Homo sapiens: one gene and its partners. The protein of the gene in region 3 interacts with the protein of the main gene of each other region in a pairwise test. Each region holds a gene or a part of one and is shown on either strand. Other genes may lie near its edges. The genes, in order: JADE1, NPHP1 and NPHP4.

Region 1 (3,752 bases), on a different chromosome or scaffold from region 3:
CACCTTAAACCTGATCATCCCTTTCCCCTAAAGCAGTGTTCCCAAACAGAAACATGGGGTACCCACAAAACAGAACCACCCTTTGGAGGTGGGGCCCATGAATCTGCATTCCTAAGTTTCTGGGTCAGGGACAACACCCTGAGATACACTGCTCTAAGACATCTAAAAGTGGTTTCAGTGTTTTCTTGAATCCAAAACTGTTTGCAGCACTAAAGTTGAACGTGCCTTTTGTTCAGGGGACACTGTAGCCACTACCAGATTTTCAAAGGTGACCATTCCACTGAGTGACTACAGGACTGCCCCCAGGACTTGGCCACTTTCCATAACGCTAGCCAGAGTGCAGTGGTAGCACGTCTTTATCTGAATAAATACTCATTTGCTGAACTCACATTTACTGCATCTTTTAGGGGAAAGGAATGAGAGTGAAGTGGCAGCCTTGGGAATGACATGGCTACCCACCACATCAGCAACTGTGTCTTCTTAAAGTTGTGTGCTCCCAAGCCCTCCTGAAATCTACTCCTGTCACCTAACTTCCAGATCCAGAACTGGTACCCAGGTATGCAATGCCCCGAGGTGTGTGTCTGAAGGAAGAGCAGTCACCATAATTACTCAGTTGTCTGCATTTCTAATGATGGCTACTTATTTGTCAGTCTGAGAATGATCATATGCCTTGATTGTAGTCACAGGTATTAAATGATTTTTGAGGATCTGCTATAAACTGATATTGTGTGAATTAAACAGAAAACTAACTTACTTGAGAAAACAAGTTGGTAGTAATGATTGGTTTTTTATTGTCACCCCTGCCCTGATACACTTACTGTTTATAATTACAAATAACTGCAACTCTCTGGGCAAGGCAAAGATTTCAATTGTTTAATGCCTTCACCATCACAGGCATCATGGCAAATTTTGGGTAGCGTATTTTTTTTCATTACAATAAGCCCATTTTAAACTGAGTCTAAGGCTGGGTACAGTGGCGTAATCCCAACACTCTGGGAGGCCAAGACAGGTAGATCACTTGAGGTCAGGAGTTCAAGACCAACCTGACCAACATGGTGAAACCGTCTCTACTAAAAATACAAAAATTAGCCAGGCATGGTGGCGCACGCCTGTAATCCCAGCTACTCATGAGACCGAGGCAGGAGAATCACTTGAACCCGGGAGGCGGAGGCTGCAGTGAGCCGAGATCACGCCACTGCACTCCAGCCTGGGCAACAAAGTGAGACTCTGTCTTGAAAAAATAAAAATAAACTGAATACAAATTCTTTAAAGTTCCTTAGGCTTTTTAATAAAGTAAATGTAAGTAATGCCACACACATACACACACAAATCCTGATTTATTCCCTGTTTCTCATACATCGTTGGCATTGTTCTACTTAAACAGCGACAGTGATGACTCCAAAAAAAATGTTTAGAATTAGAAGTGCATGTTAATCTGAGTAACTTAAGTACAGAAAAGAGTTAGTACACCACAAGCATTTTCTACACTTTTATTTTGTGGTGATTGTGAGACAAACACAGTCCAAACAATAGACTTCTTGTCCTCCCCCTCCCAACAACTATCTGACTCCATAGCTCATGCACCCCAATTACAGCAGGTGTCGGGCTGGCATAAAGGCTTCTTACCAGGATTCCAGTTTATCCTTCTCAATCCTTTTCTCATCTCTAACAAAAATGCCACACATACATGTAGTTGTGAGAGGCAAAGTCTTCTTTACACTCACCACCAGGGGGCGTATGGGAGCACAAAAGCCTCACAAAACTGCTCCAGGATCCTGCCTCTTCCAGGGCCGGAATCCGCGGCCTTCCCAGGAATCCTAACCTGGTCTGGGAAGGGGCATCACAAATAAGCTGGCACTCAGTCGTGTATTAAAAGGATCTCTAATGCTCCCTTTAAGACTTTCACTTCTACGCCATCTCTAACAGGGCCATGCAGGTCTCCATGAGATCAGGCTTTTTTGGTCCAGTGTTTCCCAGGTCTTTCCCTACACTGTTTCAGGCCACTTGGGTACCTTTCAGTGCAGACTGCTTCAGGCCAGAAAACCTCACTCCCACCTCTTTCACACTAATGAATTTAATCGGTAGCCAGCAGCCAGGGGAGTTGATGTGGAAGATGCTCTAAGAAGCATCCCCAATTAGCAAGCCTCAGCCAGAAACTACCTACAGGGAGCAGGAGGCCCTAGCGGGAGGCAGCCCACGCCTCATTATTCCTGTAGCAGGAAGGGACGTCCAGACGGGACTCCAGAGGTGATGGAAAGTGGGGGAGGCACAAAAGCAGCAAACAGCAGAAGGAAATGCCAGCAGCTGAGGCTCGGCAGCCAACAGCCACGACATTCAGCAATCTCAGTGTGACAAACAACACATCTGTAGCGTGCTGAGCATGACTGGGGCTCCTCAGACAGATCTGACACCCCTGTCCACCAGGAATCCCACCCATACCCGCACACAGACACACAACAGAGACATGGATGGACACGGGCACGCGCACACACACACACACACACAGCCTCAGTGATGACTTAGCACCTCACTGCCAGGAGTATCTTCTGTAACAGATATATGCATGTGTACATACAGCTCATGCACACACATCAGCACCCACTGCCTGCTCTGCTCCATGACAGTACTGGGAATTCCCCTGTGAATTACCCAAGAAACAAAGTGGGGGCCAGTGAGCAGCCGTGCTTAGCTTCCTTCATAAGCCCATCACCAGCACCTAGGTGTGTTTCCCCGGACTGAACAAGAAATTTTCCCATCTCTGGCCCCCTCCATTAGAAATGAAATCCGTTCTGGTTTTCTAAATCAGTCTGTAAACCATCCTGAGTCAACTCCTTGGGTCATTTTCTTGGGGCTCATTCACTCTAGCTCTAGAATGAAGGAATGGGGGTGGGGAAGACACACCCCATTTGATCTTACAAAACAGTAAAGATTAATGGGAAAGTGTTTTTAAAAAAAAAAAAACCACAAAGAAGCTCCCCACTCAGTAGCAGTTTTGCACATATGTACAATGAGTTTACCAGCCCATAAATATTTTTAACCAACACAACCTCATGCTGTGGTGTGTACAAGGGTCTGAGAGTATATGACTGGCTATCATTTCTTGCTCTGGGCGAGCGTTCGCCTCTTTGCATCTTCTTCTCTAAGTCACTATAAGGTGTCAGTGTCAATCATTACCCTCTCCAGGTCCTGCCGCAGGTGCGTGAACAGCTGCAGCCTCCTAAATAAGACATCCTGCTCCCGCTTGGCTAGATTGTCCTCTTCATCTTTCTTTGGGGTGATCAGGGGCTTGTTGAAGTTGACCTTCCTCTTCAACTTCCAGTACTGGTACAGGAAATCCACTACTTCCTCAGGCAGCCGCAGAGCCCTGGCAACATCCAGCAGGTTGACGAAGGTGTAGAACTCATCCTCCAACTGCTGCAGCTTCTGCTTACGGACACTCACCCGGTGGGCCTCCTCCCGGTTCTGCTCAAGGCTGGCAAAGGGCTCCAGCGGATTCCGGGGGGAACACTCAGGGGCCCCATTCTCCTGTGCAGCCCCCTTGCCAAGACTCTCCTCGGGTTTCCTATGTGAGCTGTGCTTTGGGCAATAGGACTTGAACTTGACTTCATCATTCTCTGCTAAGATGGTCTTCATCTCCAGGCCCCGGTCAAAAGCACAGGTCACATGGAAGGCTGTGCGGCAGTTCTTCACAGAGCACTGTCAAGAACACACAAAGAACATGAGAATAGACCATTATAGAGCAATGATGGCAG
Region 2 (3,752 bases), on a different chromosome or scaffold from region 3:
GAAGTTCAGCATAAGTCAATGCCCCATCAAGTTTTATTTTTTATTTCTACCAGAAGAGTATTTAGCTTTTGTTGCACCACTGTGATTCCAATACACAGTCACCTAAATATTTACCTTCCAAATCCTTTTTACTTTAAACAAGAGAACAAAAATGGATAAAATATGAGCATCAGTGAATCTCTTACCGGCCTCAGATTATAAAATAATTTTACTCAGTGGAAAAATACTTGGTAATAGATCACATGAAAAAAATTAAAGTGAAATTAAAATGTCAGAAAATAAACCCACTGGTTGCTATTTACTTTTTTCTTATTTTTAATAAGAACTCAGTGTATTTTTAAAAAGTTTTTTTTTTTTTGAGACCAAGTCTTGTTATGTTGCCCAGGCTAGTCTCGAACTCCTGGGCTCAGGTGATCCTCCTGTCTCAGCCTCCCAAGTAGCTGGTACTACTAGCATGAGCCACCACACCTGGCCTAAAAATTTTTATAAATATGAAAAAGAATAAAGAAAATCATAATAATCATCAGCATCCTGTCACACAGAAATACCATATTAGCCTGTTCCCTTCTATGCTGTTCTGTGTATATTATATAAGTAACAATGTGATGAATACTTTTATACATCAATCTCTGTCCTACTTTCTAATTATTACACATAGCAGATCCCTGGAAATGTAATTTTTGAGCCTAGGTGCATACACATATGTTACACCTTGTCAAGCTGCTTTCCTGAAATGCTGTACAAGCACCTTATACACGGGAGCAGTGAATGTGCCTGCTTCATCACACCTTCCTCAAGACAGAGTGTTGTGATTTTTAACATTTTTGTGATACCTTATGTGCTTTGCAATTACTTGAGTATCTTTGAAGTTAACATTCCTCGTATGTTTATGAGTTACTTGTATTTCCTCTCTCGTTCACCTCCTTTGCTCATTTATCAGATCTTAATGTTCTTGCATATTAAGACTATTTCTTGACACCTATTTCGCTTGAGTTCACGGAGGCAATAATAATCTCCACTTGAGGAAGGCTGAAAGGAAATGGGCTTGGAAAGTGGAGGAGAGGAGCTAGGCTCAGAGTTGGGTTGGAAATGGTTACACCACTAAGTTTAGATTGGGAGATAAGGTGGGTTAGTGAGTTGTTAGGGTAGGAGGTTGAGACGTTAGGTGGGAGTGAGGGTCGGAGGAGGGGGCGCTTAGTTGATGGTCACGAATTTTGGGAGGTTTCGCCTTTGGCTGGGGGTTGAGTTGGGATCAGGAGGGGTTTGAATCGGGGTTGGGTGCTGGAATGTTATGGGGTAAGGGGGCGTTACAACCTGGGAAGGTAAGTAGGTTGGGGGCAAGCTCCCAGGATTAGGTGGGGTCACGGTGGGAAGGCGCAGTGCGCGCAGCTGCGTCCGCCTGTCGCCCGCCCCAGGGCCCTCTGCACAGCCTGACCATACCTGTTGCTTCAGCTCCTGATTGCGGCGCCGCAGGGCCTGGAGAGGATCTCGCTGTCGTCTCGCCAGCATCTCCCTGGCTGCGGTGCTCTGATTGCTCCAGTTGCCAGGGAAACCAACCGGCGGCGCCAGAAGGTGACGCCATCGATGTGCGCCCGCCTCCCAGCCCCGCCCCGCCCGGGCCGGTCCCGGGAAGGGTCAAATGTTCTCTTGCGGTGGTCATCCCACGCCACCAGGCAGGTCACAGCCGGGGGAGTCACTTTTCCTCGGCAATTCCTAAGGATAGGGGAACGTCCCCCGGCGTCTGAAACTACATTCCCCACAATACATCAATAATAACACCACCTTCTTGCTGGGATACCTGTTTTATGGCATTTGCTTTCTGATACCAATTTTGTAAGCTAATGTTAAGATACAATTTTAGTATCTTAAACTCTTTCATTAACTCCAAGGATAGCTTTCCTATGGAATATATGGTTCTGTTCCATACTGTCACTTCAAAAGGCAGTTTTTAATTCTTTGCCATTTAGGCTACTGAAGTTTCATTTCATTCTAATATTGCACGTTGTCAATTCTGAATTCTGTAAGGATGGTAATTGTTCTACAGCAAATCTATGAGCAAATTATTAGTTCTCATTATGATTCCCAGTTTACATCAACTCTCAGGAAGGTTGTCATGTTTCCCCCATATGGGACTGCATCCCATGAATCCAATTCCAAAACTCCACTACACCAAAATTGAACTTGAATAAGAATGATGATGCTTGGGGCTCACCTTCCAAATGATGGACCCCATTAATACAAATGAATGTTCTTCAGAACAGCCACAGGCCAGGATGAACCATTATTTATGTACTTTTTTCTTCAAGTATAATACATACAGAGAAAAGTCTACAGACTTTGTGTGCAGCTCTGAAAACCCTCCACCCCATAACAGCACCCAGATTATGAAACAGAACATTATCTGCCCACTCACACTCTTCCTGTCTTTCTAGTCCTTGCCTACCCCCAACCTCTCAACCCTCTCACTTCTCTACCACACACCAAAGGTGAACAATATCCTAACTTATAAGAGCACAAACTTGTGTTGCCTTTTTTTGTACTATACAATGAAATTATGCACTGTGTGGTGGCTTCTCCTGTCCTTTAAATATCACATTTGTGAGATGCATCTATACTGTGTGTGTCTGTAGTCTGTTCATTCTCATTGCTGATATTTCACATATGATATACCCTAACATACTGATTCTACTGTTGCTGGGTAAGTGGGCAGTTTCCAGCTTAGGGCTAGTATAAATAGCGCTGCTAAGAACGTCCTGGTGCAAGTCTTCTGGCAAACACATAACACTGCTGAGTCACAGGCATGTTATACGTCAGCTTTAGTAGATACTACTACCTGGTTTCCCAAAATGGTACTAATTTATACCCTATCAGCAGTGTATGAGTTTTTGTTCTTTATGTCCTTGGCAAGATTTGGTATTGTCTGTTTTGTTGTAATTCATGTCTTATTTTGAATTAATTTCTCTATTATGGCTTATGATAATTAGTTCACTTAAATAGTCAAACATAGGATTTCCATTAAAAATCTTTACAACAAATGAGAAAATGCTATAAAATATTTCTAAGTGGATTATTAAATCAATAATTACAGGTGATGAGATGAGCAAAACGAAAAAAATTGCTCTAAAATACAGCTATTACTTATGAAATTCTCAGTCTACAAATAAATTAGAAAAAATTATTCTGCATCTACTTATTTATAGGGATTTCCACATTTTAAATGGAAAAGTTAATAGCATCATGGATACAGTTTAATTCTGTTGGTAAAAATAAACTAATAACCCCCCCTAAATATGTGTGAATATATGAACAATAAGGAAAGGTGCAAAAAAAGTGTATTACTCATTCACCTCAGGTGTGAAGATGTTTGACTTTATACATTTTTGCATCATATTGTTTCGGTTACAAGTATTCATTACTTGCGATTCCTAGATCAGCATCATCACCACCTGGGACCTTGTTAGAAATGCACATTTTCACATTTTCAGCCCCACCACAGTCCTAGGAGAATCAGAATCTGTATTTTAACAATACCCCAGTGTTTCATGTGCACATTCAAGTTTGAGAAGTACCACTGAGGTATTCAGTGTGCTATAAATGATATGATTACTCAGCTAATGATTTTTCACTAATAACTGTAATATTCAGGACAGTCACATTAATACTAGTCATTGCTCCTCTGTAGTTATACCTTGATGCCATTATAAAAAACAACATAACCTAAAACAAGAGAGATCTGCAGTGAGGTAGCCAAA
Region 3 (3,752 bases):
TAACTGGTCATAACACAATTATTGCCTTATCCTTTACATAATGGTAATTAATAAGTGCCTTAATTACCATCCACTTTATTAACTTTGCTTCGTGCCTTTTTAAAATTTAAATTCAGATGATCAAGGAGCTGATCTGCTAGTAGAAAAAATAAAAACACACTCATAAAGCTCTCATAAGGATGTCAAAATAGCCCTTTAGTACCTTGGGAAAGAAACCACTTAGCAGAAAACCTAAAATGAAGAGGATCCCAGGATACCCGTGGGGAAGCCGACAGGGGCGCAGACTCACTGGGAAGGATCTGCCTGAGCTGGGGCCACAACACAACCTACCACATTCTGGGTCTCACAGATGACGTTCGGGTCGCTGCAGCGAACATGGACTGGGGGGTCCTCACCAAGCATTCCCACCGGAGCACCTGGAGCAGGGGAAATGTCAAAAAGAGTCTTCTCCACAGCCCCAGCCTGTGTGGAGAAGGCCCCACACATTACACACTATAGGACAGGACAGGCTCGTCACAGGTGCTCAGCAAGACACCTGCTGGGGAAACGGACGCCGCCACCTTTCCCAGGACAGCATCCAAGCACTGTGTTCCCTGCATGGACACCGCCCATCCAGCCCACTGCGGCTCGGCTGCAGCCATCTCCACAGGGAATAATCGAGGGGGCCACAAAAAAGAAAACACAGCTCCCTGGAGCAGGGAAGCCTGCACTCTGCTGTAAGGGGCACCTACCAGAAACACGCGGGCCGTCAGGTGAGGAGGTAGGTGTTCCTCCAGGCACACCTGGACCTGGGCCGCGGGAGCTGGGATTTTTTAGAAGGGCAGACTCAGCCGGCAAATGCGCACCTAGTCATCTCAGAGGTGGCAAGAGGGACACCGTTTCAAACCATAAAGGCAGGAGAGAGAATTCCCCAGGCCCCACGTGCTGCTCTGACAGCACCAGGGCATGAAGCCATGAGGCCATCTGTCACCCTCAAGAGGTATCTACTTCCAACAGGTGAGCCTGCAACATGTGGGCTGCAGGGTCAGTGCAGGACCTGCCTGGAAATGTGTGCCAGGGCGGCAGGCGGATGGCCTTCTTCAGGAAGGAGAGCTCCGGGTGATAGAAGCGGAAGACCTGGTCCACCACGTGGGGCTGCAGCTCCACAGTCAGGCAGAGCACGGCGATGGGCTTGCCACCACTCGCTCGGAACAAGACCTGTGAGGAGGCCACGCTGAGTGTTGGGATGGGCACGAGGCTTGTGAGCAGCTTCTTGTCCCTCCTTAGACAGCACACGTATCTCCACTGTTGCCAAGACCCCCTCACCCTCCACTGCCATGAGCGGGGAAGGTCGGGCATCGTCAAAGGCAGGGACTGAGTCTGCAGCAGCAGGTCTCCACCAGGAGGGGACCGCTAAGCAAGGTCTGGGCCGGCACCCACACAGGGCACCCAAGCAGCCACACTGCCATTATTCCTCGCGAGTACAGCACACTTCTTAAATGCCAGTGGAGAAGGTCTGCAGTCCCAAGTCAAAACTACTCCTGCCATGATCCCACCTCCCGACACCCTGTGTGCATGTGCGCAAGTCAGGCCAGGAGGTCCTGGAGTGGGTGGTGGCAGGGCCAAGTTCGCGGTCAAGCACGTCAGCACAAGCTCTTTGATTCCAGATGGCAAAAAGAGGCTGTGCCTAAACCAAAGGGGTTAGAAATAGAAACTTTCCTGGTTTCAAAAGAGCTACTCATTAAAAACCATATTGTCTGAAGAGGTATTAATTGGGACAACTGATAAAAAGGCTATATTTGTTTCAAGATACACACAACCACAGAGACATGCATACTCACACACACGCACCCACACACACGCATGCACTCATGCACCCACACATGCACCCATACACATACACATACATGCACACCCACATGCATGCAGGCACACGTGCACACACATGCAAACATGCACCCATGCATGCACACACGCATCCAGCCACAAATGCACACACATGCATGTACACATATACATGCACGCATGCCCCACACACACACATGCACGCCCACATGCATGCACCCACACATGTACACATATGCATGCACCCACATGCACACACGCACACAATGCACACATACATGCACACACATCCACCCACACATGCACACACGCACCCACACACGCATGCACACACATACATGCACACATGCCCCCACACGCACACATATGCACGCCCACATGCATGCACCCACACATGTACACACATGCATGCACCCACATGCACACACACACAATGCACACACACATGCACACACATCCACCCACACATGCACACACACGCACCCATACACACACACATGCACACACATACATGCACACATGCCCCCACACGCACACACATGCATGCCCACATGCATGCACCCACACATGCACACATGCATGCACCCACATGCACACACGCACAATGCACACATATCCGCCCACACATGCACACACACGCACCCACATGCACACAATGCACACATACATGCACACATATCCACCCACATGCATACACATCCACCCACATGCACACACACACACACACACATGCACACCCACATGCATGCATGCATCCATACATGTACACAGATGCACAAATACAAACATGGATGCACATACACACACACCACCCACACATGCACGCACACACACACATGCATGCACACACACATGCACACACTTCACACCTGCACACACTGAGAAGGAGAGAGTGGGGCAGGGCAAGAATGGAAACAAGATCCTTCCAAATATATCTTGCTTTATAGTTTGATTTTTGACTTACTTGTTTTTAATTTTGAAAACTAAAATAAATAGAAGTGTTAATGTATTAAAAATAAACAAATCTAAGCTTCTATCAAGTTGGTGCTGTAATTATCCAGAGAAGAATTCTTTAAGTAAATGTAAATCACAGGACACAAAGGACCTAAAGACAAATGCACCTTCAGAAATCTTGCACTGACAGATAGTGTCTAGCCCTGGTTGGTACTGATGTTTTGAAATATACACGTACATAAAGATGGCCAGTGGTATTGTAGCCAAAGGGATTTGGCCAGTGTGGTCAGCAGATTGGTTATATACAGAGGAAATTAGGCAAATAAGTAAGCCAAATGCGAGCTAGGTTTCTCATGAGCAGAAATGAGAATTACAAACATGGAAAAAAACAGGAAGAAACCCGTGATGTTAAATTGGTGTTGGAAGAACTGCTGCAAATTCATGGTCTTCAGCACACTAGAAACAGTAGTCTGTGCACATACACGCACATATCTATACATCATATATGCATGATATGCACATATTGTGTATGTATGTATCTGCACCCACAGGCATACACCTCTTAGGTCTCTGCTGAGAGGGACTTAGCAGCAGTGACATCCCAGTAGTACTGAGTACATCTAACGCTCAAATCTTGGTTTCTAAATATCATTCTCCAACCAAAGGAACCCGAGCTAAATAGCTGACACTCCTGAAATGCAAGCTGAGCCTGGGGCGTCTTGCTGTGCTGGGCAGTAAGGAAAGACTCAAAGGAGGACAGGGGTGAATCAACAGGACGCAGGAGCTGGCCTGAAGAGGCTGCCCTGGTTAGTCAGGGCACGAATATGAGCAACAAAATAAATAATGATAGTAACAAAATGAATAAAATAGAAATTCATTGTTCATAAGGATATAAAAAGTAAATAGGTGAATGGGGTGAAGGCACAGCTCTACCTTACTTAAAATACCAGTAATCAACAGAGAAGGAATGATGG

What was found.
Region 1: the proteins of NPHP4 (region 3) and JADE1 interact in binary tests that used the Homo sapiens proteins (3 or more experiments, as listed by UniProt).
Region 2: the proteins of NPHP4 (region 3) and NPHP1 interact in binary tests that used the Homo sapiens proteins (3 or more experiments, as listed by UniProt).

What each region holds. Positions count from the first base shown.
Region 1 is NC_000004.12:128,861,648-128,865,399, reverse strand, and holds part of JADE1 (protein Jade-1), read right to left. Parts: intron 3,697-3,752; coding exon 3,175-3,696; coding exon of another isoform or gene 3,148-3,174; exon of another isoform or gene 768-3,147; intron 1-767.
Region 2 is NC_000002.12:110,203,460-110,207,211, forward strand, and holds the start of NPHP1 (nephrocystin-1), read right to left. Parts: upstream 1,555-3,752; 5' UTR 1,510-1,554; coding exon 1,441-1,509; intron 1-1,440. UniProt on the Homo sapiens protein: Together with BCAR1 it may play a role in the control of epithelial cell polarity. Involved in the organization of apical junctions in kidney cells together with NPHP4 and RPGRIP1L/NPHP8. Does not seem to be strictly required for ciliogenesis.
Region 3 is NC_000001.11:5,866,700-5,870,451, forward strand, and holds part of NPHP4 (nephrocystin-4), read right to left. Parts: intron 1,198-3,752; coding exon 1,041-1,197; intron 417-1,040; coding exon 331-416; intron 1-330. UniProt on the Homo sapiens protein: Involved in the organization of apical junctions; the function is proposed to implicate a NPHP1-4-8 module. Does not seem to be strictly required for ciliogenesis. Required for building functional cilia.